7 linked regions of the Homo sapiens genome follow. The protein of the gene in region 1 purifies or fractionates together with the protein of each later gene. This does not show direct contact. Each region holds a gene or a part of one and is shown in the gene's direction. Other genes may lie near its edges.

Region 1 (4,051 bases):
AGGGTTTCACCATGTTGATCAGGCTGGTCTCGAACTTCTGACCGATACACCCGCCTCGGCCTCCCAAAGTGCTGGGATTACAGGCATGAGCTACCACGCCCCGCCCGTTTTCAATAATTAAATATAGGTTTGTAGGTTCTGAGAAATTTAATCATCCTTGAGTGCATCTGGAAATCTGCAGACCACTGCTTGACTTCCTCCACTTCCTAAGGGTGGGGCATTGGAGTTTGGGGTTGGGAAAAAAGCGCTTGCACCACAGAAGTGAGTTCGGAAGGTTTCTATGAGACGAGACAGGTTTGGACTAAGGACAGGGAACAAATCAGTAGGAATGGCAGGTGAGAAATAGGTTTAGGACTAACACGAATTATAGTGTCCTTTGGGAATTACCCCTTTCCCCTGCATGGCTCTTTTGGCTTCAGAGATGTATATAGCTGCTTTATTTTATGAATATCAAGTAGCTCCAAACCCTGTGGGGAAAAGCTCCCTGCTCTATCACTTGTGTTACACATTGCTTTTGAGTCATTTTAACGATTTCCCTCACAGTCTGCCACCAACGATGTGTGGACGGCAGCCAGGGAGGGAAAGAGGCATTTCTCCGATCGTTCCAAGGAATGATTATCTAGACAAAATCCTCAGCAAAATGACGAGCCAAATCATCCTTAAATCGTGTGCTCACTAGAGGCGAAAAGATGACCGAAAGAGGCCCGAACGCGTGGCTATGGGCGTGTCTGGGGGGAACGCCGGCCGCGGGGGTGCGAGGGAGGACTCGGGGGCTAAGGGCGGCCGGTGGCGGGACGCAAGCGCCATGGCGGAGCTGGGCCAGTGCTGACCATAGGGGGCGGGGCTCCGGAGGCGGCCACGCGGCGCGAGGCCTAGATTTTCGGCCTCGCATCGGCGGCAGACGAAGAGGGAGGAGCTTCGTCCACCCAGGACCCAGCGCCCCCAAGCCTTGCAGCCACCAAGGGCTTCCACCACAGACCCCTTTGTGTGCCTGCCCCCGCCCCGGAGGCGCCCCAGCCAGGGGCGCTGAGCACCCTCATTGGTTCAGCCGGCAGCTTCATCGATTGGCTCTCGAGTCGTCCGGCGTGGTCCGTTTTGCCTGGATACTACTGGTCGTCTGAGCTGCCTGTCAGGCCGCCTCGCCAAGCGATTGCCCCGTAGCTCGGAGTCCCTGGAAGCAGTTCCGGGAAACCCCGCGTGCTGCCGGGATCGCGTCTCAGTCCATCAGGGGGGGGAGGGGGTGGCGCGCGCGCCATTTCTAGTCGTTTTCAAAGCGCCTCGCGCTGATTCTCACGGGCCCGGCTGCCGGCCCCCGCTCTGCCCTGGTGAGTCTCGCGCCGGCCCGTGGGGGGAGGGGCCGGGAGCCCCGATGCGACCCGACTCAGCCCGGGCTCCGTGCCTGGTCCCGTTTCGTTTGCGCTCCGAGGCCCCGGGGTGGGGGTGGGGACGGGCTGGGGGCGGCTTCGGTCTAGTCCGCCCGCGCGGCTGTGGGCCTAGCCCGGCCGAAACGCTTCTCGCCCTCGCTCTTCCTCCCCCCGCCCCTTTAGCCCGCGGTCCGGCCCGCTGGGCGCTCTCCGCGCGGCCTGCTGGGGCCGGCCGTGCTTTTCCCGCCTCCGCTCGCTGCTCCATGCGGCCGGATCCCGCGAAGGGCCTGAGGCGCCCGCGGCCCTGCCGCTTCTCCCCGCCGGAGCCGCTTCGCTCCCGCCGCGGCCGGCCTAGCCCGAGAGGGATGTGCTGATGATCCGGACGGGCCTGAGGGGATGGGGGTGGGGGGCGGAAGGCGGGGTGCAGATCCCAGGGTTATCTGAGCCGGGAGAAAAGTTTTGTGTGAGCAGAAACCGAAAGGCCGATTTGTGTGGGAAGCCTCCCTCCCCTCCCACATTCTGCATGCCGCGGGCTGAGATTTGAAGGAAAAAATGACTACTAGAGGCCGTAGAACTTAGGCTCCAAGCGGCGCCTGAAATGGATAATTCTGAGACTGTCAGAGGCGCACCAAATTGGAAAGGCGATCCTTTTTCTTACACGGTAGTGGCCGTATTGCCAAATTTTTAAAAAAGCCCAGGGCTTCTTGGAAGGTTCAGTCCTTTCACACTACCTGTTTGAGATTTTTGCAGTCCTCAAGTGGCTGAATTGATGTCTCATGAGTCAGTCGTAGGATGAGAGCTCGACACTCCTAAGCCATGAGATAACCGTTAGTCTCATTTCGTTGGTTCTTTTAAAGCCCGTCTCTTAATATGAAGAATTTGCACAGAGAGGTTCAGAAAAAGTCAGGGAGGAGTTAGTGCTGACATCCCGAATCTCCCAGCAGCCCTTTTAAATCTTTAAATGTCTCCTTTTTTTTTGCAAAAATGTTTAGATCAAATGACTCCAGTCACGTTAGTATATTTGCTGCATCCAGAAATATGGTTTGGCTGTGTGGCATTGTGTTGAATGCCACATTTGAATGAGTTTCAAATGGTCTCATATGACATAAAAAGTCTTTTCAAAATGAGCATTTTGTATTTGGCTTGAAGAGAGAGGGCTTTCCTTGATCCGAAGGTTTTATTTTCTGGAATCTAATTATTTTACGGTTTTTTTGTTAAAATTTACAAACTTTTTTTGAAAATTTTAACCAATTTCAGTATCAACTTGTAGAGCCTTTGCAATGAAATGGTAGGCATAAATATTTCTGTCTTGTACTTAATACACAACTTGTCTTTTTGCTTTACACATACTTAAAAACCCCACCTTAACAGATGTTCATTGAACTTTTCTGTTAAAAATTTGCCTCTTTTCTGTGACTGATAGTATTCCTAGGTACAATGCTGTAAGGGTCTTGTGATACTGAGAACTTTTGAGTTCTGATGATCTTAAGGTAGTATGTGGGGATGGGGGAGCATGGGAAAACAGAACCTTATGTTCGCAAGGAGATTTTGTGTTTTAGGATGCATCTTTATAGAAATAGGTCGTGTTAATCAGTAAACGTATTCATCTCACACAATACAGTTTCTTGATCAAAAGTGTGACATTTCGAATGTTTCCGTTTTTGCTAGTTCATCAGAATTTGAAGCTTGTCTTGAGAAACATCCACCCAGAATTTAACCACAGTCTGCGTCTATTAAGGGCTATCGAGTCTTAATAGTGTTTTGTAATTGTGAGGAGTCATGTTTATCTCATTTTCAGAGTAATCCTTTGCATTTTCTTCTTCTTCCTACTCTCTATTACCTCCTTCCCCTCTTGGTCTTCCTCCCTCTTTCGTTAACTTCAACTAAGTATCAGTGGACTTTGAAATGAAAAGAAGTTGTTTTAAGCCAGAAAACTGCACCTGGTGCATTTGCACAATGTTCGATAAGCTGTCGGGAAGTGTGGTTATCTTATGTGTCTTAGTACTTTGTAGGAGACTTGTATTTTCTTTATAGATGACTAGGTATCTTGAGTTTCATCAAGAAAAGTAGGCTTTTTCTTGAGATCCACCTTTATGTCTTTTATTTAGTATGTGTTGCAATGTCTTGTTCTGCTGCCTATTATCTTCATCACATTGTAATTTCACCACAGACAAATGCACTTTAATTCCCTGTCTTTTGAGGCAGTACACAGACTGGCCTTGTATGGTTTATTGTTTACTCTCTCTCTTCAGGGAGTCAGTCCATTTCAGCATTACCTACAGGCTGAATGTACAAAATTATTTTTGATAGGTTAATCTGAGAAATCTGGCTGAAGTTTAGCCTAATTAGGTAACGGTTTTTGAAATATTTGGAAGAAGTTGTCCATTCTTCAGTATGTTTTTACATCTTTATTTTACTGATATGAAAATTTCAACATGTACTCTTTTTTTTTAAGAAGCAACCTAAACTATAGCTCACTTAGTATTTTATTTGGACTGAAAACAATTGTTTCGCTTTTAAACTTGGTCATTTTTTCTTTTAAATCTGTGGGAATAGCGAATTAATCTTAGAACAAAAATTAATGTCAAGTTGGTTTTTTTTTGTTTTCGTTTTGTATTGTTAGGTGGAGAAAACCCAAACCACCAGCATGTTGAACTAGAGAAAACAGGGCACTTATTTCACACCGA
Region 2 (3,500 bases), on another chromosome or scaffold:
TGGAAATAATGACATTAGTATATAAAGCTCAGATTTGGAAATTTATTCAGACTCTACTGAATAGCTGTGTACTTGTTTTTTATTTCCTCTTCATTTACCTGTGAGTGATAAGTCTATATTTTTCTCTCCCTTTCTAGTTATGTTGGATATTTTAAGTTATCAATTTTTGTTTGTTTGTTTGGGAGCCCAAAGAGTGGTAATTACTTAACCAGTCTTTGCTTCAGTTTCCTTACCTTTAAAATAATACTATTAGGAATGTGTTAATACATTTATAAACCTGAAAGGAATGCAGATGCCTACTACTGCTAACTATCTTTCCACCCTCTTCCTTTCTTTATGTTAAAACCTCCCTCTTTTTTGTCTAAACCTGCCTCCTAAGAATTTCCCGATCTAGTGGAATTGCAGAAAGACATTTTAAGTGTCTATTGAATTTTTCACTGGTTAACTTTGTCAGTTTTTTAAAACTTAATGGTTCTGACATTTAAATGATTAATGACGTTACTTTAGTCTTAGGAAAGCTGGTTCTAAACGTTTGCATAATATAGCTAGCTACTCTACTCCTTTTTAGTATTCCCACCTCTTTTTATATACTAGATTACTTGTCATCAGTAAATGTAATGCGTAGTTTATTTCTACGTGATGTAATTTTTTTCTCTTGTTACACAGGCTGCTTTTGTCAGAGACGTTTTATTACCGGGAGAATGGGATGTATGTGTAACATCTTATGAAATGCTTATTAAAGAGAAGTCTGTGTTCAAAAAATTTAATTGGAGATACTTAGTAATAGATGAAGCTCACAGGATCAAAAATGAAAAATCTAAGGTAATTTGATACTTAGATGTGAAAAGCCTTCATGTAAGAATTTGATTAAAGTACAGATTTTTTTTTCTTTTAACTTTAAGTTATGAGATACATGTGCAGAACGTGCAGGTTTGTTAACATAGGTATGCATGTGCCATGGTGGTTTGCTGCACCCCATCATCTAGGTTTTAAGCCCCGCATGCATTAGGTATTTGTCCTAATGCTCTCCCTCTGCTTTCTCCCCACTCCCCGACAGGTCCTGGCATGTGGTGTTCCCCTCCCTGTGTCCATGTGTTCTCATTGTTCAACTCCCACTTATGAGTGAGAACATGTAGTGTTTGGTTTTCTGTTCCTGTGTTAGTTTACTGAGAATGATGGCTTCCAGCTTCATCCATGTCCTTGCAGAGGATATAAACTCATTCTCTTTTATGGCTGCGTACTATTCGCTGATGTATATGTGCCATATTTTCTTTAACCGGTCTATCATTGTTGGGCATTTGTGTTGGTTCCAGGTCTTTGCTGTTGTAGATAATGCAATATGCAGAATATTCTAATGGTGTATTTGGTTCTTTTCTTTCAGTTGTCAGAAATAGTGAGGGAATTCAAGACTACAAATAGACTATTATTAACTGGAACACCTCTTCAGAACAACTTGCATGAGCTGTGGTCACTTCTTAACTTTCTGTTGCCAGATGTGTTTAATTCAGCAGATGTAAGTATTTCCTGGTGCTTTCTGGTTAATAATAATATTTTGCTTAATGCTATATATTTTTGTAATAAAAGTGGCCTGCCTTTTAGCATGGCTTGAGGTTATTATTAATTTTTTATGCTTTTATTTACATAGTTAGCCTGGTGTTATCTCCTAGGTTGTCTCTGTATAATGGGAATTTACTTTTGTGCCTTTGGTTTCAATCTTATTTCATTATTATTATTATTATTTTATTTTTTTTGAGACGTAGTCTCACTCTGTCACCTATGCTGAAGTGCAGTGGTGTGATCTTGGCTCACTGCAGCCTCCACCTCCGGAATTCAGGTGATTCTTGTGCCTCAGCCTTCCGAATAGCTGAGATCACAGGTGTGTGCCACCATGCCCGGCTAGTTTCTGTGTTTTTTGTAGAGATGAGGTTTTGCCATGTTGTCCAGGCTGGTCTCAAGCTCCTGGCCTCAAGCGATCTGCCTGCCTCAGCCTCCCAAAGTGCTGGGATTACAGGCACGAGCCACCACACCAGGCCTCAGTCTTCTTTAAATCATTGTTTTCTCTATCTGAAATGGCATAAATTGTCACTCCTATTTGGTAAGTCAGGTTGGCCTGACTTTGTTTCAGTGGCTCTAGGTTGACTGGTTATGTTTTTAAGGTGCTGCTCAAGGTATTCCTGAAGTGATTTGTATACCTCACATTGCTTATGTTTTAAGTCCCAAGGATGACTGTCAAATTTAGTGAAATCTGTCTGGCTTTTCTTATATTATAGTCTAACAAACAAATAGAACCTAATCTTTATGGATTATTTATAGTCATAGAAAGGATAGTAATGGTTAATTAGCTATTTGAACTGTTAATAGTAATATAATAACTATGTCAAGAGTTTGTGCTATTAGAAATTGCAGTTTTTTTTGCCTGGACCAGTGTTTATTTTTGAAGCTTTGTTTGCATAGCTGGCGTCTTATGTGTATTGGAGGGATTTGAAGAGCTCCATGTTAGTATATTTTTGTACAATTAAGTTATAAAAAGGTATTAATTAATTTTGTTTTTTTTCTGTTGAAGATTGTTTTGAAAGAATAGATTGTGTTGTAAAAAGATATTTAATCAGACTCCAAAAGCAATTTTAGCTTCGATTTTATGTATTTTGATGTTTTTGAGATAATTCCTGTTTCTCACTACATTGACACTTTCATTTACTTTAAAGCAGTGAATTCTAAGATTATGTTTACTCAAAAACAAAGCACATATATAATACATATGTTCAAGAGATGAGGTTAGGGAAACTGCCCTTGTTGAAATCGTAACCAAATATTAATGAAATGCTGGTAATTTCAATTTCATTTAGTAAGTTTGATTAAAATTGACATTGTTCGTAAACTTGTATTTGAGTAGTGCGAATGGTCTCAGAGAACAAACTATAAAATGTTTTAATTTTCAAGCTTTTATGAAACTTGAAAGATACTTTACAAGAATATTAATTTTCTAATCCTATAGAACTTGCTCTCCAACTTTTTACTGTGAAACTTGTTATTTTGATGTTTTTGAGAAGAATGTTTAGAAGGTAGTGTGATTTCTGAACTACTTGTTTTAAAATTAGTAACAATGACACATGAAAACCAGGATTGGACTAAGTGATTTTTTTTTGTGGGTTACAATTCAAATTACTAATTCTAGAAATCATTTCTATATCTGGTATTATAGGGTATTTGTTAATATTATCTCTGATCTGAGTATATTTTTTGTTTGTTTATCTAGGACTTTGATTCCTGGTTTGATACAAACAACTGCCTTGGGGATCAAAAACTAGTTGAGAGGCTTCATATGGTAAGTATTTTGGAGTAGTGTTAAAGCATATTTATGATGGGAAAAAGGATAAAGGTTTAAATTAGTAGATTATTTTCCTGTTAATAAAAAACACAATGGCTTAAGAATCAGATCTGCTTGAATTCTGACACTTAACTCTTACATCTTACAATCAGTGTAGGGGGTGATGTGTGGT
Region 3 (2,169 bases), about 11 Mb from region 1:
CAGCATTGCTGTCGCGGGGTGAGGCTGCCTACTGTGCCCTGCCGCCCGGCCTTCTGTGCTTCCTCAGGAGAAAGACCAGCAGGGATTCCAGGGGGAGGCCTTTGTTAGCAGTTGTAGAAGAAAATGTTTCCCAAAGAGCTGAGCTGTTTCCCTTTCTCTTCTCTCCTCCTGTATCCCGTCTCCTCCCCTCTACTCTTCCTCCCCTCCCCTCCCTTCTCTTCTTTTCTCCTTTATCTTCTCTTTTTAAACTGTAGTGACAGTAGAGAGGTATATTAGGCTCTGCGTCTGTGCCCCCAAGTAGTCAGAGAGCCCAGATCCCACCCTGGAGAAATGGGAAGTGTCCCATCACATCCACAGGGATGCCTGCGGCTTCTAGTTTCTGGCCCAAGACCAGGACTTGGAAAAGGAAGCAGAACTTGACCTGAAAGAGCAGAAGAGTGGGAGACAGGGCTGAGTTCCTCAAGTTCGAAGAAAAATCAAAAGTCAGATCAAAAAGGACTGCACAGAGGCCTTCCTTGTGAGCCGCCTCTGAACTAGCTGCACTAGGACAGGTGCCAAATGTGCATCGTGTGGGTTTTGCCGTCTGTTTGGCAGGCGGCTGCTTTTCCCTGCTGCTTGGTGGCTTCTCTGCCCTCGCTCTTGAGTGCACCTTCGGTTCCTCCCACAGTTGGGCAAATGAGCCAAACTACCTTCATGGGGTACTGACCGATCTCTCCTTGACTTAGGCTCAAGCTGGGCCATGCCAGAGTGGAGCCAGTGAACACTCAGCTCCAGAAGGGCCCAGGCCACTGAGTCCGTGGTAATTCTGCAAGGCTGGGTCAGAGCCAGGGTGTGGTGCCACTAGGGTTGTCTCCGTAGCCTATTTCTATAGCTGGCCACTGGGGTTGGCAGTGAACAGTAATCACACTTGTTTTGTGAATTGAACAGGAAGATCCCAGTGTCTGAGTGAACTAACAGTCCTGCTTTCAGCCACCATTTGCACAAGACACCCAGCACTGAAAGTCCCGCTGCCAGGAGCAAGGGATCCTTTGGAAGCACCCGCCCTTTGTGCCTTGTTGGGGGAAACCGGTGACGCAGAAGTGAGTGTGGATACACCAGAGTTTGCATTGGAAGGAATGAGTGTCACGTGGGGAGGGAAGGGGCCAGTGGACCTTTTGTAAGCTTTCCACTCAATAAAATGAACCTGTATGGCAAATACTTGAAATGGAACTCACTCCTTCCACTTTCCCCCTTTCTTCTGTCCCAGGAAATAGATCATCTTTTGAAAAGACTCTTGTCTAGGAAAAGTTGTGTCCTTTTCCTAATTTAACGTGTTCTTTCTTAATGAAGTTTTAATTTATTTTTGTTGAGATTTTGCTAGATGGCTTTTGCATCCCCTGTAGATGGTGAGTGTTGGCGGTGATGTCCATCTCGGCGTTCGGAGGCCCCACGGTCCCGAGGCTGGGCCGGGGCCCCCCAGGGTGGCTGTGCTGCTGCCTGTAGGAGGGTGCGGGTTGTGCTGTCATCCTCGGGTTTGCACGCCCTTTTTTAGGAGCCTGTGGACATCTGTGGTTTTGTACTTTGGGGCTTCAGGGGAGGTGTTTAACTTTCTAGTGATTGATGATTGTCAGGTTTTGAAATACCAAAGCTTTTTTGTTCTGTTTTTAAATAAATATCTTTCAAACTTTCACGACCGGTTTGTGTGTGGTTGAAACCTGGAGACATGCACCACGTCTGCCCTCAGCACTAGATCTGTCAGAAGCAGGACACCCACCCGGCCCTGCTGTCACAATGCTATTCCTTTCTGGTATGTTCTACCTCTCTTCAAAGGAGTCTGCCCAGAAGATGTGTTGTTTGCCACCTTTCTGCTCGCCAGGGGGTTGCTGAGTGGCCCTGCTGAGTGGGTTGCTTCTGGCATTACCCTAGCTCCTTCCCTGCTAAGATGCCCTCTCCCCCACCTGCCCTAAAGAGCCAGGGTTCTCCTGCCCTGGGTTTTGCTGGCTATAGGACGTCAGCAAGACAAACCCTGAGTGGTTCTTCTCCAGGTTGTCTGCTGAAGCCACCATCAGATGCCTCCCCTCTGTGGGGAGGAGAAGGGTCCACTCTGGGGACCAAAAAGGGGCCGAGCCGGGCATGGCAGTCCACCTGCGGGGCTGTCCTCAGCGTCTTGGCGTTTAGACTTTCTCTGCG
Region 4 (3,268 bases), on another chromosome or scaffold:
AACCTCTGCATCTGTGACACCTACTCTATGACCCCTGGGGACTGACAGTAAAGGAAGGGATGATGCTTCAGGGAGCAGATAGTGTAATCTGATAGTACTCAGGCATAGCTAGGCCTGCCCTTGCCCCTGCAGGTTGTCAGTGATGGTGTACCCCTGGTGCTAGCCCTGGTCCCCCACCGGCAGCCCCACTCCTTCATCACCCAGGGTTCCCCAGACCTGTTGGTAAGTGCATTGTGCAGAGCCCCAGCTCAGCTCCACTCCCCCTTGCCTCTGCCAGAAACCCACCTCTGCCCCCTCCTGCCTGCAGGTGACTGTGAGTGCCAGTGGGCTGCTGGGCACCCACAGCTGGTTGCCCTATGACCGCAACATAAGCAACTACTTCAGCTTCAGCAAAGACCCCACCATGGGCAGCCACAAGTAGGACAGAGGGCTGTGGGTGGGGTGGGCTACAAATGCCCTGCACCCGGAATTATTCCCCTCCCTAATCAGAATGTAGGCCAGCTGCAGGGGAAAGGTCTGGCCAGGCTCCCTGAGGGCCTGGGTCTCTTCCATGTGGCCTGGCCTCACTTGCTATCCCCCTCACTGGGTCAGGACGCAGCGACTGCTGAGTGGCCCGTGGGTGCCAGGCAGTGGTGTGAGTGGACAAGCACTGGCAGTGGCCCCGGATGGAAAGCTGCTATTCAGCGGTGGCCACTGGGATGGCAGCCTGCGGGTGACTGCACTACCCCGTGGCAAGCTGTTGAGCCAGCTCAGCTGCCACCTTGGTATGAACAGCCTTGGAGCTGGGGAGAATGAGGCACACAGGTATGGGGCCGGGTTCTGAGGCTGGCCAGGGCGGATGTGACTCCTCCGTTCTGCCTGTACCCTCCCCTTCCCATGCAGATGTAGTAACCTGCCTTGCACTGGACACCTGTGGCATCTACCTCATCTCAGGCTCCCGGGACACCACGTGCATGGTGTGGCGGCTCCTGCATCAGGTGTGCCTCGTGGGCAGCTCTGTGGGGCCCCCGTAGCCCAGACCTGCAGCCCATCCGTCCCTCAGTGGCCTTCCAGTCCTGTCCTCCTCTAGTCTTGGACAAGGCCTTCATTTCCTGAGCCTCAGGGGACAGTCCTAAGCCAACCCTGGTCCTCCACAGGGTGGTCTGTCAGTAGGCCTGGCACCAAAGCCTGTGCAGGTCCTGTATGGGCATGGGGCTGCAGTGAGCTGTGTGGCCATCAGCACTGAACTTGACATGGCTGTGTCTGGATCTGAGGTGTGTGTATGCATGTGCCCTGGGGAGGGTGAGTTTCCTGGGCAATCCCCCTGGAGCCCAGACTCCTGCCCAGGACCCTAAGTTGCCTTCCTGCAGGATGGAACTGTGATCATACACACTGTACGCCGCGGACAGTTTGTAGCGGCACTACGGCCTCTGGGTGCCACATTCCCTGGACCTATTTTCCACCTGGCATTGGGGTCCGAAGGCCAGATTGTGGTACAGAGCTCAGCGTGGGAACGTCCTGGGGCCCAGGTATGGGGAAGGGGTGCCCAGCAAAGATGGAGGGGCAGTTGGGATCCTGTCCTTGCTGACACTCCCTGCTTCCTCCAGGTCACCTACTCCTTGCACCTGTATTCAGTCAATGGGAAGTTGCGGGCTTCACTGCCCCTGGCAGAGCAGCCTACAGCCCTGACGGTGACAGAGGACTTTGTGTTGCTGGGCACCGCCCAGTGCGCCCTGCACATCCTCCAACTAAACACGTAAGCCCCCCATTTATGGGTTCATGGCCCCTGAAGGTGGTGGTCATTGGTGTAGGATAAAGGCCCTAGGAACCCACACACCATACATGTTTGTGGGCACATATTTCAAGGTTTGTTACCTGTCCCTTCATCTTCCCATGGGGAGGTCTTGCCCTGGGCCTCCGCTTAGCCACAGTTGTGGGAGATTTCTTTGTGTATAAGAATTTCAATTTAACCATCCTTAAAATGAGGACAGAGAGGGTATATGGGATAAGGGATATCTGCTGGTCGCAAAGCCCCCTTGCAGTCGCAAGTTGGTGTATATCCCCTCTCCCTTCCAGACTGCTCCCGGCCGCGCCTCCCTTGCCCATGAAGGTGGCCATCCGCAGCGTGGCCGTGACCAAGGAGCGCAGCCACGTGCTGGTGGGCCTGGAGGATGGCAAGCTCATCGTGGTGGTCGCGGGGCAGCCCTCTGAGGTGAGGATGGGGCGGGGGTGGGGAGGCCCCTCGAACGGGGCGGGGCGTGGCGCGGCGATCCCAGCTGATCCTACTCAACCCTTACGCCCACCAGGTGCGCAGCAGCCAGTTCGCGCGGAAGCTGTGGCGGTCCTCGCGGCGCATCTCCCAGGTGTCCTCGGGAGAGACGGAATACAACCCTACTGAGGCGCGCTGAACCTGGCCAGTCCGGCTGCTCGGGCCCCGCCCCCGGCAGGCCTGGCCCGGGAGGCCCCGCCCAGAAGTCGGCGGGAACACCCCGGGGTGGGCAGCCCAGGGGGGTGAGCGGGGCCCACCCTGCCCAGCTCAGGGATTGGCGGGCGATGTTACCCCCTCAGGGATTGGCGGGCGGAAGTCCCGCCCCTCGCCGGCTGAGGGGCCGCCCTGAGGGCCAGCACTGGCGTCTGCGGCCGCAGCAGCACTTTTTGCACAGTCTGGGGCGGGGTTCCCCGGCTTCCAAGTCGCTGTTTCGTCAAAGCACGAGGGCCGCCTGTGGCCTTAATTCCTAACGGCGGCCCCGGTTCTCCCTTCTCGGCAATAAACCAGGCCTAGTTTTGTAGCTGCTCCGTCTCCGAGTGTGCGTTCGCGCGCAGCGTCTCGGCCTGCCATGGCCACCGTCCCAGGGTCGCCGTCTGAGTCTGGCCTGGCTCGCGTTCCCCTGGCCCGTGACCCCCTCTGGGCCCACTCGCCCCCCCTCCGCGTGGCCGTCGCTGAACTGGGGCCTCAGTTTACCCGGCAGTGTAGCCCCTGCCCCACATCTCGCCCCGGCTTGTGGTTTCCCCACGATCTCTTCATGGGGTCGCCTTCGCACGCCATTCGTCCACAACCGCAACCCGGCCAGGCGCCCCGCAGGCGCGTTTGCATTCCTTCGCCGGGCAGGGGCGACAACACCCGAGGCCGCGCCCCTCCAGCTCGGCCCTGCCACCTCATTGTCTTGCCTACTTCTTGGGCCGCCCTGTGGCGCCGCTGTGGTCTCGGGGTTGGGGGTGGGGGGCCAGAACCACCCCAGAGAGTCCACGTTGTCTTCCCGGAGGGCTCGGTCCTGCCCTGCTGAGTGGA
Region 5 (3,500 bases), on another chromosome or scaffold:
AGTGACAAGGACCTGCTACCCCTGGGCAGGTTATGCCGGTTCCACTGTGAGGATGGTGGCAGGGGGCTTCCCAGGAGGCCTGCACATTGGGAAGAGAGGGGCGACCGTGTGTGACTGCAGGACCCAGGGCGCAGTCTTAGGACTCTGATGGGGGAGGAGATGCTGGGGAGCCCTGTTCTGCCAGCCTGGTGACAGACATCTCCTAATGTTTCCCGGCTGGGTACAACTCACAATGTCCTCCGTGGGGAGGCAATTGCCCATGAGGCATCCCTGGCAGGGATGATCTTGTTTCATTGCCACATATCCCAGCAATGAAACAAGAATCTAGAGTGATGTGATTCCTCCGATGACTTCTCCAACCATCTGGGGTTTTTGTGCGACTCCAAGAAGGGGGAAGGAGGCAGCTCTCGCTCCTCTGGGCTCCTGATGTGGCAGCTCTGGAATGGCCACGTGTCCGTTGGCCCACAGTGGGCCATTTGTCGAATGTGGTTGTGGTGGGATTGGGGCTGGGCTGGAGAGTGGGTGACCACACCAGCTAGCCTCACCCTGGGCCACTGTGCAGCCAGGGGTTTCATCTTCCCAGGGGTCTCGTTGTGAGTGTCCTGGGGCTGCTGGAACAAATTACTGGAAACCAAGTGGCCCAACAAAGATTGATTCGCTCATGGTTCTGGAGGCCACAAGTTTGACATCAAGGTATTGGCAGGACCACACTCCCTCCGACAGCTCGAGGGGAGGACCCTTCCTTGCCTCCTCCAGCTTGCGTTGGCCCAGGCGCTCCTTGGCTCTGGCAGCATCTGCAGTCTCTGCTCTCATCACGTAGCCCTCCCCACCGTGTCTCTTTGTGTCCCAAGTCCCCTTCTGCCTTTCTCCTATAAGGACACCGAGCACTGGATTTAGAGCCCATCCCAAATCCAGGATAGTCTCATCCCGGGATCCCTAATCACATCTGCAAAGACCCTTTTTCCAAATAAGGTCACATTCGTGGGTTCTTGGGGTTAGGTATTAGACATGTCTTTTTGGGGGTCACTAGTCAACCCTCTACAGAACCTCAGACGAAAGTGAATCTTCACAGGCTGAAATGGGGGTGAAGGTCTAGTGCGTCCCTCCTCCTTGGGAGCTCCCTCAGGGCTTGTGCCTATCCTGTGATCCTGTGATCCAGCCTTTTTTTTGAGATGAAGTCTTGCTTTGTCGCCCAGGCTGGAGTACTGTGGCACGATCTGGGCTCACTGCAACCTCTGCCTCCCGAATTTAAGTGATTCTTCTGCCTCAGCCTTCCAAGTAGCTGGGATTACAGGCGCCCACCCCCATGCCTAGCTAATTTTTTGTGTTTTTAGTAGAGACAGGGTTTTACCATGTTGGCCAGGCTGGTTTCGAACTCCTGACCTCAGGTGATCCGCCTGCCTTGGGCCTGCCTTGGCCTCCCAAAGTGCTGGGATTACAGGCATGAGCCACCACGCCTGGCATTTAGTAGGTTTTGGTTGTTTTTTTTTTTTGAGACAGAGTCTCACTCTGTCATCCAGGCTGGAGTGTAGTGGTGTGATCATGGCTCACTGCAGCCTTGATCTCCTGGCCTCAAGTGATCCTCTCACCTCAGCCTCTCGAGTAGCTGGGATTACAGGCATATGCCACCACCCCTGGCCAATTTTTGTATTGTTTAGTGGAGTCGGGGCTTTGCCATGTTGCCCAGGTTTGTCTTGAACTCCTGGGCTCAAGCGATCTGTCCACCTTGGCTTCCCAAAGTGTTGGGGTTACAGGCGTGAGCCACCACGCCTGGCTTAGTAGGTTTTCTAGAAGCGCCTGAGGCCTGGTGAAGGCATGGTGTCATGGAGTAGAGAACATTCAACTCTGTTCCCGGGGAGCCGGAACACACCCCTCGTAGCCAATCTCAACAGTCATGACGTGGCCAGGATGACATGGGGAGGGGGTGGTGTGGACTGTGTGGGAGGCCAGCTCCCCGGGAAGGGGGCTGGAGTGGGCTTGGCTTTGAGGAGGATTCCCAAGAGGAGGAGGAGGCGGTGGCATGCTCGTTTGGGGGGATGGCGTGAGCCAGGGTGGGCACCTCTTCATTTAGGTGTCACCTTCTTGACATTCCAGCCGGGACATGGTTTCCTTGGGGAAGATGGACACCCCCAGAGTGGGGCATCTCCTGGGGAAGATGGACACCTCCGGAATGGGGCGCCTCCTGTTCTCACTGTTCTTCTAGCACACAGTTGTATTCTCTTGCAGTTCTGGAGGCTGTGAGATCTCCTGGCTGTTATCTAGAACAAACTCGCCTTTGAGCAGCGCCGTCCTGATGGTGGGGTGGCCCCTGCGGGTGGAACAGCCCCTGCTGTCTCAGAGCTTACTGAGAGCTAGTGGGCATGGGAGTGGTGCTGGACCGAAACACCCAGAGGGATCATAGAGCCAGGCAGTAAGCACAGAGGCCAGCTAGTGGGGAGGGAGGGACCCATCCATGAAAAGACACCAAGCATTGAAAGAGAGGAGAGGATGGTTGGGGACCGGCACACATGTGCATTTTGCGCAGATGGCCAAGGTGGTGAGGCGCCAGCCACGCAGACAACTGGAGGAAGGAGGAGTGCCCTAGGGGAGGGGCCAGCTCCGGTTCTAGAATGATCCGCTTGTGCACGTGGGCCTGGCTGGAATAAATCATTGCATCCGCACCGTAGACTCAATCGTAAGCTCACACCAGGGCAGCCTCTGCTTTGGTGCAGTGTCTTCGATCATGAGTTGGCCATGGTGGGGGTGACTCCAAGGGGACTCCCAAGGAGGGGGTTCACCGGATCTCCCAGGGAAGGTCATTTGTTTTCTTGGGTTGGACCTGGGACAAGGCCTTCTCCTGTCTAGTTTCTGTTCTCCAACTTGACCGCACGGAAGGATGCTGAGGACACCTGGAAGCCGGCCCCTGCTCTACAGCACCCATAGGACAGAGGCACACCATGTGGGGACAGTTTGGACAGTGCTCAGGAGGCAGGGAGCAGATCAGAGGACCGCGGGAGGCCCTGGGAACCGCACGAGGACCCAGGCATTGAGCTCTGCACTTTCTGGCATCAGCCCGATGTACAGTCTGGCTCTGTGTCTACCCCGTACTTCACTTTCCCCATCTGTACGGGGGCGGTAATAATATTCTTTACAGCCCAGGTTTAAGCGGGTGTAGATGTGATGAGCTTGGTAAGCCCATCTCATTACATTCAGTTCTGGGCATTGAACCCTGGACTTTCTGGCTGGTAGAAGTGGACATTCAACCTTTCCTTGGGGCCCTGGGGCTTCTGCAGAATCAGAACACAGCCAGCAGTTTGCATGCAGGGTGCAGAGGGACAGAGGGACACCATGTCGGGAGCCCACACCTGGCACACCCCTGACTCTGGGGCTCAGTGTCCTGCTGCCCTGCGGCCACGTGATCAGCTAGAGGTCATGGCTGGACCCATAGGCGAATACAGCCTGTGGATTTGATTTTGTTTGGCCCTGCGGTGTTTTATTTTATTTTTAGTTTTAGTTTGTGG
Region 6 (3,285 bases), on another chromosome or scaffold:
TTTCTGAGGCCCATTGTGAAAACTTTTAATTTCTTTTTTAGGTGTGGTGAAACTGGTCATGTAGCCATCAACTGCAGCAAGACAAGTGAAGTCAACTGTTACCGCTGTGGCGAGTCAGGGCACCTTGCACGGGAATGCACAATTGAGGCTACAGCCTAATTATTTTCCTTTGTCGCCCCTCCTTTTTCTGATTGATGGTTGTATTATTTTCTCTGAATCCTCTTCACTGGCCAAAGGTTGGCAGATAGAGGCAACTCCCAGGCCAGTGAGCTTTACTTGCCGTGTAAAAGGAGGAAAGGGGTGGAAAAAAACCGACTTTCTGCATTTAACTACAAAAAAAGTTTATGTTTAGTTTGGTAGAGGTGTTATGTATAATGCTTTGTTAAAGAACCCCCTTTCCGTGCCACTGGTGAATAGGGATTGATGAATGGGAAGAGTTGAGTCAGACCAGTAAGCCCGTCCTGGGTTCCTTGAACATGTTCCCATGTAGGAGGTAAAACCAATTCTGGAAGTGTCTATGAACTTCCATAAATAACTTTAATTTTAGTATAATGATGGTCTTGGATTGTCTGACCTCAGTAGCTATTAAATAACATCAAGTAACATCTGTATCAGGCCCTACATAGAACATACAGTTGAGTGGGAGTAAACAAAAAGATAAACATGCGTGTTAATGGCTGTTCGAGAGAAATCGGAATAAAAGCCTAAACAGGAACAACTTCATCACAGTGTTGATGTTGGACACATAGATGGTGATGGCAAAGGTTTAGAACACATTATTTTCAAAGACTAAATCTAAAACCCAGAGTAAACATCAATGCTCAGAGTTAGCATAATTTGGAGCTATTCAGGAATTGCAGAGAAATGCATTTTCACAGAAATCAAGATGTTATTTTTGTATACTATATCACTTAGACAACTGTGTTTCATTTGCTGTAATCAGTTTTTAAAAGTCAGATGGAAAGAGCAACTGAAGTCCTAGAAAATAGAAATGTAATTTTAAACTATTCCAATAAAGCTGGAGGAGGAAGGGGAGTTTGACTAAAGTTCTTTTTGTTTGTTTCAAATTTTCATTAATGTATATAGTGCAAAATACCATATTAAAGAGGGGAATGTGGAGGACTGAAAGCTGACAGTTTGGACTTTTCTTTTTGTACTTAAGTCATGTCTTCAATAATGAAAATTGCTGTTAAAAGGATGTATGGGATTTAGATACTTTTGCAAAGCTATAGAAAATTCACTTTGTAATCTGTTATAATAATGCCCTTGAGTTCTGTGTTCAGTCTGAACAGGTTTTTTGGTGGTGGTGGTTTTGTTTTGTTTTGGAGACGGAGTCTCACTCTTGTCGCCCAGGCTGGAGTGCAGGCTTGGCTCACTGCAACCTCCACCTCCCGGGTTCAAGCAATTCTCCTGCCTCAGCCTCCTGAGTAGCTGGGATTACAGGCACCCGCCACCACCCCCCGCTAATTTTTTGTATTTTTATTTTTATTTTATTTTTTTATTTTTTTTTGAGACAGAGTGTCGCTCTGTTGCCCAGGCTGGAGTGTAGTGGTGCGATCTCGGCTCACTGCAAGCTCCGCCTCCTGGGTTCGTGCCATTCTCCTGCCTCAGCCTCCTGAGTAGCTGGGGCTACAGGTACCCGCCACCGCGCCCAGCTAATTTTTTTTTTTTGTATTTTTAGTAAAGACGGGGTTTCACGGTGTTAGCCAGGATGGTCTCAATCTCCTGACCTCGTGATCCGCCCGCCTTGGCCTCCCAAAGTGCTGGGATCACAGGCGTGAGCCACCGCGCCCGGCCTATTTTTTGTATTTTTAGTAGAGACTGGGTTTCATCATGTTGGTCGGGCTGGTCTCCAACTCCTGACCTCAGGTGATCCACCTGCCCCGCCCCCCAAAGTGCTAGTGTTACAGGTGCGAGCCACCGTGTCTGGCCGATTCTGAACAGTTTTAATACCATTGCTATTTTTGTGTTTTTCCTGGGCCTTTTTTTTTTTTTTTTTTTTTTTTGAGACAGTCTCGCTCTGTTGCCCAGGCTAGAGTGCAATGGTGCAATCTCAGCTCACTGCAACCTCCACCCCCCACCCCCACACCCCGTTCAAGTAATTCTCCTGCCTCAGCCTCCCAAATAGCTGGGATTACAGGTGTCCGCCACCACACCCAGCTAATTTTTGTTATTTTTAGTAGAGATGGGGTTTCACTGTGTTGGTCAGGCTGGTCTCCAACTGTTGCCCTCAGGTGAGCCACTGTGCCCCACCTTTTCCTGGGTTTCATAAGGATCTGAAGTGGTGGATTCCTTGTTTTTGCTAGTGTCTCATTTAGAGTTGAGATGGACCTTAAAACTCATCTGTTTTAACTCACTTTTTAATAGATGAGTTAAACTTAATTTACTTAAGGATGTACAGTTAGAGCCTGGAACTTCAACCATTATTCACTCCCCATGCCCTGTTTCCCCCCACTTCGAAATTAAATGCGGTTAGCATCATATAGTTCATTTTCCCCCTCCATGCTGCTGTGTGATTCTTGACTTTGGGTATGAGTTTTTCATCCTTCATGCAGGGTTCTGTCAGTTCATGGTATAGTGATTCAGTGTTAAAATGGTGGTGTCTCAGCTGTGCTGTGCACATTCCAACCTTGTCAAATTAATAGTCCTGAGCAAGCAAGAAAAAGAGGTAATAACATACCCATTTCTTTATGAATATAAGCTTATAATATTTTTTCATGTGCTATTTTTACTGAGCAAATTGTATGTCTCACATGTTAACACAATAAATATCTTGACAATTTTATTTTCTACCATATGTATGAAACAGCATAAGGAAAGACTTTTTTTCGAAGGCATCACTGTTAGGTTGGGGGAAAGATTTATTTTTGAAGGCATCACTGTTAAATGAGGTTTGGGGGCTGGTGTGCACATGGAGTTATTTCCCCCCAAATTCTGGGCCTCATGTAGGAAAACCTAAAACATAGCAAATGGGATATGTTGTTATGGCTCTTCAGGTCAGCTTAGTTCTCATTAATAATACTTTCTCCTGCGTTAATCACAGCTTTGTGTGTTGGGAAGGGAAAAAGTAAAGTGGGTTGGTTAAAATTTAGAACTCCTTTGCTTCATGCACCCATTCCTTGTGCTGAATTTGTAGTACTTTAGTTGCTTTGTGAGACCTTTTGAAACAACATAATTAAGGACCTATTCACAGGAGACTACAAAGTGTTCCTTTATAAGATAAAATTTATTTGCATTGACCTTGATGACTGGAAAGCAAATGCAACATGAAAATGTGTATTTTAC
Region 7 (3,500 bases), on another chromosome or scaffold:
GGTGGTGTCGAACTCCTGACCTCAAATAATCTGCGCCCCTTGGCTTTCCAGAGTGCTAGATTACAGGTGTGAGCCACTGCACCTGGCTTGGAGTTAGACTAGACTTTAATCCTGTGTTTACCAGTTTTTAGCTGAATGACCTTGGGCAAATGACTTAGCTCTCTTGATGCTTACTATACTTGTATGGGGACAGCATCACCTATTTTACAGGTTGTCTGAATTAAATGAGCAAGTGTGCAGAGAGCCCCTGGTACAATGCCTGGGTCTTGGTGTTTACTGTGTGGTTGCCATTGTTACGGGATAACTAAATGAATGGCAAGCCACCTGCTCAATGGCCAGCGGGGAGTGTAGGCCACACTTCTGCTGTGGATTTTGCAGGATCCTCCACTGGGGACTGTGTCAGCCCTGCCCTAACTCTAAAGGACTCTGCCTGGCTCCACTAGGAGCCAGGTCTTTCCTAACTGTGGGTCTTTCCTTCCTGTGGGTCTTTCCTTCCTGTTTCAGGCACGAAGGCAGTTCCAGTCTCAGCTGGCTGACCTGCAGCAGCTCCCTGACATCCTGAAGATCACGGAGGCGAAGCTGGCTGAGTGCCAAGACCAACTGCAGGGCTATGAGCGGAAGAACATCGACCTCACAGCCATCATATCAGACCTGCGCAGCCGGGTAAGGGACTGGCAGAAAGGGTCCCACGAACTGACCCGAGCAGGGGCCCGCATACCAAGATGAGCTGCACGCCCCCCAAGGGAGGACTACTTCCTTTTTCTTGGCTGCTGCTTTTTAAAAGGAGTGAGCTATCATCAGTGCTGTGAAATAAAAGTCTGGTGTGCCAAATGCCATGTGTTTGCACAAAGTGATTGTAGTTATAGGAGCCGTCACTTGCGTGGAGTCACTGGGCCCTCCTGCTGTTGCCCCCACCCAAGACTGCTGCCTCTGCCTGTGTGCTCCGCAGCTGTCCTCAGCTCCACACCCACAGCTGGGAGATGCCAGCAGACACCGAGCCGTAGAATTTCTTTTTTTCTCTTGCTTTAGCTGCTTCTCCTGACTCTTTAACAGATGCACTGCCTGAGATTCTGTCCTGAAAGAAGCAAGCATCCCTTTCTCCCAGAAGCAGTCTGTCTCTGGGTTACTGGAACCATGCCTACGGCCTGCAGTGTCCAAGAAATTATATACCACTCATTTGCAGCGTGACCTTGGGCAAGGCCCCTTTCCCACTCTTGACGTGTGTACTTGTGATAATTAGAAAAGGGGCTACCATTTTTTGAGCACCTCTTCTGTGTTCCTGCATTCTCTCATTTAATTCCATCAGGAACTCTGTGAGGTGCATGTGTTATTTTCCCCATTTTACAGAAAGCAGCCCAAGGCATAGAGAGGAGAAGTAATTCCCCACCATCACAGAGCTAGTACCTAGTAAGCAGGGATTGGAACCCAGCCAGCTCTGTCTGGTTCCCAAGCCCACATTCTCAGTACTGTAACCTTACATTGCCTGCCTTCTCCGTTGAACCTGAGCATTCTCAGGGACTTTGAGCCTTGATAGCTGAGGCTTCTGCATAAAACAGCCCTCTGGGTAAATTCTCAAACTTGCCAACTCAAAAGGATTGACAGATTTCCTGTTGTCTTGCCTGCACTTGTCCCCAGTTAAGAGGAGGTTGAGATCAATAGTACCAGCAACATAACAGGTAAAGCTCTGTGGTTGGTTTGTATGGGCCAGTTAGCCCTGCCAGCTGTTTCTGCCTTCTCATGTCTGTCCTGGATCCTAGCTGGGTCTCTCTGAGTGGCCTCCCCTGATCGAGAAAGCATCTTTGTCATTCTTTAGCATCAAACCTGGTTTCTCCCAGTGTGGGGAGAGCCTTTTGTCTTTGGAGTTGGGCCTAACCTGTCCCTGCTGTCCTTTCTCCTCTAGGTTGTGCGTTGAGACTTGGACACCTGCTGAGGGCACTGTGCCCCTTTCCTGGGTGTGGACAACAGGTCATAGGGAAAGGGGAGGGCTCTAGCGGGAAATTCCTTTGTAAACCAGTCTGTGTTCCTGTCATTTTAGATCGAACACCAGGGGGACAAGCTGGAGATGGCGAGAGAGAAACATCAGGCTTCCCAGAAGGAAAATAAACAGCTGAGTCTGAAGGTGGATGAACTGGAGAGGTTAGAGGCACTTGGTCCCATCTCTGTCCTCTTCCTAGGACCTGAGACTTTCAGCCACTTAGCTGTTTTTTGCTTAGTGTGCGGAAGTGTTGAGGGACTCGAGGCCCTGGAAGGTACTAGGCAGACCTCAGAGGAAAAGCTGCTTCCATTTCAGTGGTAAGCATTGTGGGAGAGAGCAAGGGGGCCTCTCAGCCTGGGGAGACACTCCATGACAGCATGATCAGGATCTGCCCACCTGTAGGCACCACCTGTCCCAAAAGGCATGCCTGGTCCAGGCCTGCCAGGAGGGCCCAGTTTGAATGGAGCAGCCAGTATACTGTGGTGGGGGCACTTCCCCACTCTTTTCTGCCCTTTCTTGCCAGTCACCCTTCCCAAGACCTTTCTGATCTGACCGTTCTCTGTTATTTACGGATTGTTGGAGGCAGTCAGAGGTGAAGGGTACGGCTTTGGGAATCAGAAGCCCTGGCCTTGGGGCCCAGCTCTGCCACTTACCAGCATTGTGATCTTGAGCAAATCATTTAATTCCTTTGAAGCTCAATTTCCTCCTTTTGAGGAAAGGGTCAAGGTAGAGTTTATCTATCTATCTATCTATCTATCTATCATCTATCTATCATGTCACTCTGTCACCCAGGCTGGAGTGCAGTGGTGCAATCTCAGCTCACTGCAACCTCGACCTCCTGGGCTCAAGCAATTCTCCTGCCACAGCCTCCCAAGTAGCTGGGACTACAGGCGTATGCCACCATGCCTGGCTAATTTTTGTATTTTTTGTAGAGATGGGGTTTCGCCGTGTTGCCCAGGCTGGTCCTGAACTCCTGGGTTCAAGTGATCCACCCACCTAGGCCTCCTAGAGTGCTGGGAGTACAGGCGGGAGCCACCACACCTGGCTGATAATAATCTTTTCATGGTGGTGGTGTGAGTCTTCAATGATATAATCCTGGTAAAGGTCCTAGCATGTTACCTGGCATAGAGAAGCGCTCAGTATAGCTTAGAACATGTTATTAGTTAGCTGGTATTATCCCAGTTTTAAATATGAGGAAACTGAGCTTGGGGAGGAGTTAAGTGACTTTCCCAGCATCACACTGTTGGTACCTGGCAAAGCATGACTTAGACCCGTGACTGTCTTCCTCGAGAGCTTCTGTGAGCATCTCTAAGAGGTAGGCAAGAGGCCGGGCGTGGTGTCTCACGCCTGTAATCCCAGCGTTTTGGGAGGCCGAGGCGGGCGGATCACGAGGTCAGGAGATCGAGGCCATCCTGGCTAACACGGTGAAATCCCGTCTCTACTAAAAAAAAAAAAAAAAAAAAAAAATATATATATATATATATATATATATATATATATATATATGTATAAAATTAGCCGGGCG

Evidence for each region.
Region 2: the proteins of HNRNPR (region 1) and SMARCA5 fractionate together in Homo sapiens (co-fractionation; one large-scale study listed by BioGRID). This does not show direct contact.
Region 3: the proteins of HNRNPR (region 1) and KIAA2013 fractionate together in Homo sapiens (co-fractionation; one large-scale study listed by BioGRID). This does not show direct contact.
Region 4: the proteins of HNRNPR (region 1) and NBEAL2 purify together in Homo sapiens (tandem affinity purification; one large-scale study listed by IntAct). This does not show direct contact.
Region 5: the proteins of HNRNPR (region 1) and SEPTIN9 fractionate together in Homo sapiens (co-fractionation; one large-scale study listed by BioGRID). This does not show direct contact.
Region 6: the proteins of HNRNPR (region 1) and CNBP purify together in Homo sapiens (affinity purification with mass spectrometry; 2 studies listed by BioGRID and IntAct, with this or other methods). This does not show direct contact.
Region 7: the proteins of HNRNPR (region 1) and ODF2 purify together in Homo sapiens (co-immunoprecipitation; one large-scale study listed by IntAct). This does not show direct contact.

What each region holds. Positions count from the first base shown.
Region 1 is NC_000001.11:23,341,485-23,345,535, reverse strand, and holds the start of HNRNPR (heterogeneous nuclear ribonucleoprotein R), read left to right. Parts: upstream 1-1,251; 5' UTR 1,252-1,325; exon of another isoform or gene 1,326-1,962; coding exon of another isoform or gene 1,963-2,025; intron 2,026-4,051. UniProt on the Homo sapiens protein: Component of ribonucleosomes, which are complexes of at least 20 other different heterogeneous nuclear ribonucleoproteins (hnRNP). hnRNP play an important role in processing of precursor mRNA in the nucleus.
Region 2 is NC_000004.12:143,527,202-143,530,701, forward strand, and holds part of SMARCA5 (SWI/SNF-related matrix-associated actin-dependent regulator of chromatin subfamily A member 5), read left to right. Parts: intron 1-666; coding exon 667-822; intron 823-1,381; coding exon 1,382-1,513; intron 1,514-3,256; coding exon 3,257-3,325; intron 3,326-3,500. UniProt on the Homo sapiens protein: ATPase that possesses intrinsic ATP-dependent nucleosome-remodeling activity.
Region 3 is NC_000001.11:11,919,091-11,921,259, reverse strand, and holds the end of KIAA2013 (uncharacterized protein KIAA2013 precursor), read left to right. Parts: intron 1-927; coding exon 928-945; 3' UTR 946-1,669; downstream 1,670-2,169.
Region 4 is NC_000003.12:47,006,934-47,010,201, forward strand, and holds the end of NBEAL2 (neurobeachin-like protein 2), read left to right. Parts: intron 1-132; coding exon 133-222; intron 223-307; coding exon 308-417; intron 418-591; coding exon 592-764; intron 765-882; coding exon 883-977; intron 978-1,136; coding exon 1,137-1,253; intron 1,254-1,349; coding exon 1,350-1,508; intron 1,509-1,586; coding exon 1,587-1,735; intron 1,736-2,055; coding exon 2,056-2,191; intron 2,192-2,285; coding exon 2,286-2,387; 3' UTR 2,388-2,768; downstream 2,769-3,268. UniProt on the Homo sapiens protein: Probably involved in thrombopoiesis. Plays a role in the development or secretion of alpha-granules, that contain several growth factors important for platelet biogenesis.
Region 5 is NC_000017.11:77,396,499-77,399,998, forward strand, and holds part of SEPTIN9 (septin-9), read left to right. Parts: intron 1-485; exon of another isoform or gene 486-556; intron 557-3,500.
Region 6 is NC_000003.12:129,167,327-129,170,611, reverse strand, and holds the end of CNBP (CCHC-type zinc finger nucleic acid binding protein), read left to right. Parts: intron 1-41; coding exon 42-159; 3' UTR 160-2,785; downstream 2,786-3,285. UniProt on the Homo sapiens protein: Single-stranded DNA-binding protein that preferentially binds to the sterol regulatory element (SRE) sequence 5'-GTGCGGTG-3', and thereby mediates transcriptional repression. Has a role as transactivator of the Myc promoter.
Region 7 is NC_000009.12:128,494,006-128,497,505, forward strand, and holds part of ODF2 (outer dense fiber protein 2), read left to right. Parts: intron 1-504; coding exon 505-663; coding exon of another isoform or gene 664-726; exon of another isoform or gene 727-835; intron 836-2,035; coding exon 2,036-2,136; coding exon of another isoform or gene 2,137-2,292; intron 2,293-3,500. UniProt on the Homo sapiens protein: Seems to be a major component of sperm tail outer dense fibers (ODF).